Linked DNA regions of Homo sapiens. The protein of the gene in region 1 purifies or fractionates together with the protein of each later gene. This does not show direct contact. Each region holds a gene or a part of one and is shown in the gene's direction. Other genes may lie near its edges.

Region 1 (3,500 bases):
GCAGTCACTCAGCTTATAAGTGAAGGAAGCGGCGTGTCTGTGCTCTTTAACTATGCTGCCCTGCCTTCCATTCTAGAAACAAACTTCAGTTGCATAAGTATGTGTAACACATAAATGTCTGTCTCTCTTGAGAGATACATACTTAGCTATTCTTTCTAGACAATATAACTAACATAACTTAAAAGTAACTTTTCCCAGAAGGAATTGTTAAATTGATCTCTTCTTCTTAGTGACGGCACATCATCACTTAAAATTCTACCAAATCTCAAAATCTTTTTTTTTTTTTTAAAGAAGGAATTTCGCTCTTGTTGCCCCGGCTAGAGTGCCGTGGCACAATCTTGGCTCACTGCAACCTCTGCCTCTCGGATTCAAGCAGTTCTGCCTCAGCCTCCCGAGTAGCTAGGATTACGCGCATGCCACCACAACCGGCTAATTTTTTTTTTTTTTTTAGTAGAGACGGGGTTTCACCATGTTGGCCAGGCTGATCTCGAACTCCTGACCTCAAGTGATCTGCCCGCCTCAGCCTCCCAAAGTGCTGGGATTACAAGCGTGAGCCACCACACCCGGCCAAATCTTGAATTGTTTATCTTGCCAGTTTTCTCTAAGGTTTTTTATATTCTCTAGAGATTTTTACATAGCCTCTTCCTTTACATTTGATCTTCCATTTGTAATATAGGTTGAGGATCCTTATCTGACATTCTTGGAACTAGAAGGGTTTCAGATTTTGGAATTTTTTGCATTTTGTAATATTTGCATATACATGAGATACCTTGGGAATGGGACCCAAGTCTAAACATGAAATTCATTTATGTTTCATGTATACCTTATACACATGACCTGATGATAATTTTATATAACTTTTTTTAATAATTTTGTGCATGAAACAAAGTTTGTGTTAAGTGCTTATATGTGGAATTTTTCACTTGTGGTATCATGTTAGCACTCAAAAAGTTTTAGTTTTTGGAGCATTGCAGATTTTCAGATGAGGAATGCTGAACCTGTATATTGCAAATGTTTACATTTTACCGTACAACAGTGAATCTCTGCTTACACTTCAGGTATAGTTAGTGAGATAAGTGATTGAGTTTCTTTTTATTTTTCTGTCTTACAGCTAATGGTTGCAGAGAAGAATGGAACAATCCGGTTTTATGATCTTTTGGCCCAACAGGCTATTTTATCTCTTGAATCAGAACAAGTGCCATTAATGTCAGCACACTGGTGCTTAAAAAACACCTTCAAAGTTGGAGCCGTTGCAGGAAATGATTGGTTAATTTGGGATATTACTCGGTCCAGGTACTTTCTTGATATGTTTGTCTATTACACACCAAAAAAAGGCAGTAACTGTTGCTAAATGATCCACTCATCCATCCTGTTATACCTGAGACTATGCTGTCAAGCGAAAGCAAGTCTTTCCTATAGAAGGCCAGAGCTATGGATTTTTATATAACATAAACTTGCTATGCAGATTTACTCTGGGAGTAACCCAGAAAGGACAGTGCAAAAGAGGAAATCTTGGATCTGTGCAATGTTGACTTATATTGGAAAATAAGAAAAACACTGACCCTGTTGCATGATGGTTCCCTGCAGTGGTTCTAAGTCATGTCTTTATTGTATTTCATCTGTTTTAACTGATTGCTTGTTTAGGATTTATTATAGTTTAAACACATTGGACATTCTGTCCTATAAAGAGAAAATACTGTTTAAACCTTAAGTTCACCCACTTGAGTTTAACACATAATTCATAAAATGCAAAATATTATCTTTTAGTTATCCTCAAAATAAGAGACCTGTTCACATGGATCGAGCCTGCTTATTCAGGTAATGTACCGTTTTTGTTGGAGCTGTGATTTGATCTTTTGACGTTGCTGTGCCACCACTGGGATACTTTTGTAGTTCTCTTCTTTGCACTGGATTTTTTTTTTCCCTTATTGTTTTATAAGTGGTTATTTTACTTTCCCGACTAAGTCATTGCCTTTGTCTTTTGGTCTAGACAAGGAGTTGATTTGTTTTCCAAATATTTTCTTTACACAGAAAAACATGTAACCACTCCACCACTACCACCCCTACAATTTGGAATATATTATGCTTCCTGATTGTTCTGTGCTGTTAAGGATGTAAATGTAGGGGAGCCCATGTTCATGTATATAAACTTTATTATTATGTGTTAAATGAAACTATGCTAGATAGTATATCTCTGCGACATGTTTTTGCTTTTCACTTAAATTAACATACATGTCTACCTTGTTCTTTTTCATAATACTCCATTGTATAGTGTGGTCCTTAAGCCATTATTTCTGCTTTTTAAGTAACAGCAAAACCAAATAAGAGACTAAAACCAGTGAAATTTTATTATATGCTATATTCCAATAAGTTGTAGAACTTAGGGATACCATTATTAAGAATAAAATACATTCGACTAAATGTAAGAATGCCATGGATCGTTAAGATACATCCTGACTTCAGAGATGTGTGAACAAATATACACCAATGAGCAAGTATCCATCAATTTTAAAATCAATGAGCTATGGTACTTATAAGTCTAGAGGAGGTAGTCTCAGGGCTTGTTGAGCAGCTCATCAATGTCATCAAGAGCTCAGACCCTTTTCATCCTTTCCCTCTGCTATTCTCAGTGTCAAGGATTGGGACTTGTTGCTTCATAGTTACAAGATGGCTGTGAGAGTTCCAGGCATAAGAGAAGTACTCCATTTGCCGAACAATTAAACAAAAAAAAAAAAGTAAGAGGAGAAGAAGGAACCCTCTCCTTTTATGGGAGATTGCTATGACTGCCTTAAACTAATTATGTCTCATCCCCTAGGGTAGGACACACTGTGCCCTGAACAAAGTTAGGCTTCACTTAGCATGGAAAAGGGGCAGAATGGCTGTCATATTTGATGCCTTATTTGTTTCTTCTACCACACTATTACCCCTTTGGTTGTGAAAAAAAGGATTGTATCAACCTTGTGTAACTTTGGAACTTAATGAAATGACACAAAATAAGCACTTCATAAAACTTAAAGTATGAGAAAATATTTATGGAATATTTTCCTGGAATTCCCGGTCTAATTGTAAAGACATATTAACAAATTTAGGATTATTAAAATCACTGGTTTTATACAAAAAGAAACCTGTTTCTGTCTAGGTGCTATGGCTCATACCTATAATCCCAGCACTTCAGGAGACCAAGGCAGGAGGATCACTTGAGGCCAGGAGTTTGAGACCTGCCTGGGCAAGATAGCAAGACCCCATTCCTACAAAAAACAAAAAATTAAAACTTACCTGGGCATCGTAGTACACACCTGTAGTCCCAGCTACTAGGGAGGCTGAGGTGGGAAGATCACTTGAGCCCAGGAATTTGAGGCTACAGTGAGTTTTGTTAGCACTTCTGCACTCCAGCCTGGGTGACAGAGCAAGACCCTGTCTCTTAAAAAAAAAGAAAAAGAAAAAGAAAAAGCCCGCTTCAGAAAAGCTTGTCATTATCCATAGGATACGATACTTAATTT
Region 2 (3,500 bases), on another chromosome or scaffold:
CTGCTTTATCCCTTGGCTCTGAGAGCAAAGCTCAGGAATCATTTCAGGTGAAACCTGTCCCCATTTCTTCCTTAGGTCTCCATTTTGTCAGCAATGGAGCTCATCTGGAACCTGTGTGAGATTCTTTTTATTGAAGTGGCCCCAGGTAGGCATGGAATATCTCACCATAATCTCATAGGTGTCCCCTTCCATCTTCTGCTCTTTCCTCATCTTTCCTGTGCATGGTGATGAGTGTTTTATTCCTGAGAATGTTCTTTCCATCATTATAACCACGGGAAGTCGTTAGAAAACACCCAAAGAAACCTGACCGTTTTGTCAGGTGCTGCAAAAAGAATCATGCAGAGTGCCTCCAAGAAACCTAAACCCTGACAAGTACTGAGAAATATTAAACTAGTGTGTGAAAGGGGGTGTCAGTGTTAACATCATGGACTGGCCAAGCTTAAGAAAGTTTTATGAATGTGGGGTAGGATTAGGTGGTGAGAGGCAAAGTCACATTGGGAATTCTGTCATGAATCATTGGGACAGGGCAACTCTGTGTGTTAACTCTGCCAATGGGTATGAACTCTGCCAATGGGAATTTTTCTGTTGATCTTTTTTTTTTTTTGAGACAGAGTTTCACTCTTGTTGCCCAGGCTGGAGTGCAATGGCGTGATCTCAGCTCACCGCAACCTCCACCTCCTGGGTTCAAGCGATTCTCCTGCCTCAACCTCCTGAGTAGCTGGGATTACAGACATGCGCTGCCACGCCTGGCTAATTTTGTATTTTTAGTGGAGATGAGGTTTCTCCATGTTGGTCAGGCTGGTCTCGAACTCCCAACCTCAGGTAATCTGCCTGCCTCGGTCTCCCAAAGTGCAGGGATTCCAGGTGTGAGCCACCGTGCCCAGCCTTCTGTTGATCTTGAATTAAACTGTGGTCAGTATAGTGTCATGGCCTGTATGAGCTCTCTGTGGATCTGCTGCAGCTTTTTTGCATTTCTTTTAAGGATTTATGTTTGCTATTTTCCATAAATGAGTAGTAACCTCTGTGTAGCCCTAGCATTTTATTCATACTCTCACTAAAGAAGTGAGGAACTTGAAATTAGAGTTGGTTGTTCAGAGGCCTCCCTTCTCCAGTGGATTTTTGAGGAGGTTACAGTTGGCTCTTTGTATCTGCAGGTTCTACATCATGGATACGGAGTGCTGGCTGTACTCTGCCATTTTATTTCATTTTATTTTTATTGATTGATTGAGACAAGTTCTCACTCTGTCACTTAGGCTGGAGTGTGGTGGTACAATCACAGCTATTGCAGTCTGGACCTCCCAGGCTCAAGCGATCCTCCTGTCTCAGCCTCCTGAGTAGCTGGGACTACAGGCACGTGCCACCATGCTAGGCTAATTTTTTGTGTGTATATGCTGGGGGAGGGGAGACAGGGTCTTGCTCTGTCACCCATGCTGGAGTACAGTGGCGTGATCACAGCTCAGAAGCCTCGACTTCCTGGGCTCAAGCAATCCTCCTGCCCAGCCTCCCAAGTAGCTGGGACCACAGGCCTGCACCACCACGCCCGGCTAATTTTTGTATTTTTTGTGGAGAGGAAATTTCGCTATGTTGCCCGGGCTGTTCTTGAACTCTTGGGCTCAAGCAGTCTGCCCATCTTGGCCTCGCAAAATGCTGGGATTATAGGCGTGAGCCACCATTCCTGGCTCGGCTAATTTTTTATTTTTTTTTGTAGAGATGGGGTCTCCCTATGTTGCCCAGCCTAGTGTCAAACTCCTGGGCTCAAGCGATCTGCCTGCCTCAGCCTCCCAAAGTGCTGGGATTACAGACATGAACTACCATGCCCGGCCATATGTTTTGTTTTGTTTTGTTTTTTGAGACAGAGTCTCACTCCGTCACCCAGGCTGGAGTGCAGTTGTGCGATCTTGGCTCACTGCAACCTCTGCCTCCTGGGTTCAAGCAATTCTGCCTTAGCCACCTGAGTAGCTGGAATTACAGGCATGCGCCACCACGCCCGGCTAATTTTTGTATTTTTAGTAGAGACAGGGTTTCACCATGTTGTCCAGGCTGGTCTTGAACTCCTGAGCTTAGATGATCCACCTGCCTTAGCCTCCGAAAGTGCTGGGATTCCAGGTGTGCACCACCAGCCCCCTGGCCCTATGTTTTTATCATCATTGCATACCTGGCTGCTTGCTATCTAGTCATTGTTGGTTCCTAAACGGCCATTACTTATGTAGCTATTAAGTATTTGTGAAGAATCTGGAGTGTGGGGTAGTGAGGTCTGCATTCCATGTTCACCCCTTTCTGGGGTCAGTTAAAGATGGAGCTGCCTGGCACAGAAGTAATATTTGGTGAAAGTGCATTTGCTTTTTCCTAGCACAGTCTGTCATTCAGGACCATGTGTGTGACTGCTTAAAAGGGATAAACCTATGTAGTCAGCTTGTCTGCCTTAAAGTTCTCTGTTCCTTGGATAAAGGAACTTGCTGCAGATGAAGCTGAGGCTTTTGTGTGTGATGAGAGTCTCTCCTCCCAGCTGGCCCTCTCCTCCTCCATCTCCTTGACTGGGTCCGGCTCCATGTGTGCGAGGTGGACAGTTTGTCGGCAGATGTTCTGGGCAGTGAGAATCCAAGCAAACATGACAGCTTCTGGAACTTGGTAAGACAGGCCGGGCCCCCACCTCCCACCATGTGTCCTACTGTCCCTGGTGCTGCCGGGTGGGTCTGAGGACACCCACTGAGCCTCCAGCAGTAGGCTGGCTTTTGGAGTCTGTTACTATGGAGACTCTTTTGGATCTTTTCTTCCCTGCTCTATGGGAGAGTCTAAAACCGAGGTACCATGTAAGAAAAATAATGCTTTGAAGACTTTTCCAGGGTAAAAGGAAATTTGATTTCTTTGTGGATCTAAGGAAGAGAAGACACAAAAAGGAATACAAAACCGTTTTTTTTTTTTTTTTTTTGAGACAGGGTCTCGGCTGGGTGCGGTGGCTCATGCCTGTAATTCCAGCCAGCACTTTGGGAGGCCAAGTCAGGAATCTCTTGAGCCCAGGAGTTTGAGATTAGCCTGGGCAACAAAGTGAGACCCTCCATCTCAAAACAAATTAATAAATAAAAATATAAAAGAGAAAAGATAGTCCGACTCTGTTCCCCAGGCTGTTGTGCAGTGGCCTGATCTTGCTCACTGCAACCTCCGCCTCCTGTGCGGTCCTACCACCTCAGCCTCTCAAGTAGCTGGGACCACAAGTGCCAACCACCATGCCTGGGTAATGATATAAAACCAATTGACAGGGGCTGGGGTGCATACAGGGTTGGATGTAAATGAGCTTGCACATTACTTTGGATCATCAGTTTCGAAGTCAGCATGTCGTATATGTGTATATGGATGTATTTTCTATGTGTTAGGTATTTCCATTCACCTCTGCTGACTGACCCAATTGGGAGGTGGCAGGGAGGAGATCGCTAGTTGACTGGGCTAATGGAAAGTCAACTAAACTTATAAAGCCTGAAATTGGGAACAGATTGTGAGGACAA

What was found. Proteins that work in one complex are often made in the same cells at the same time.
Region 2: the proteins of NUP37 (region 1) and NUP85 purify together in Homo sapiens (affinity purification with western blotting; 4 studies listed by BioGRID and IntAct, with this or other methods). This does not show direct contact.

The regions. Positions count from the first base shown.
Region 1 is NC_000012.12:102,075,115-102,078,614, reverse strand, and holds part of NUP37 (nucleoporin Nup37), read left to right. Parts: intron 1-1,111; coding exon 1,112-1,293; intron 1,294-1,767; coding exon 1,768-1,818; intron 1,819-3,500. UniProt on the Homo sapiens protein: Component of the Nup107-160 subcomplex of the nuclear pore complex (NPC). The Nup107-160 subcomplex is required for the assembly of a functional NPC.
Region 2 is NC_000017.11:75,215,679-75,219,178, forward strand, and holds part of NUP85 (nuclear pore complex protein Nup85), read left to right. Parts: intron 1-75; coding exon 76-145; intron 146-2,506; coding exon 2,507-2,628; intron 2,629-3,500. UniProt on the Homo sapiens protein: Essential component of the nuclear pore complex (NPC) that seems to be required for NPC assembly and maintenance. As part of the NPC Nup107-160 subcomplex plays a role in RNA export and in tethering NUP96/Nup98 and NUP153 to the nucleus.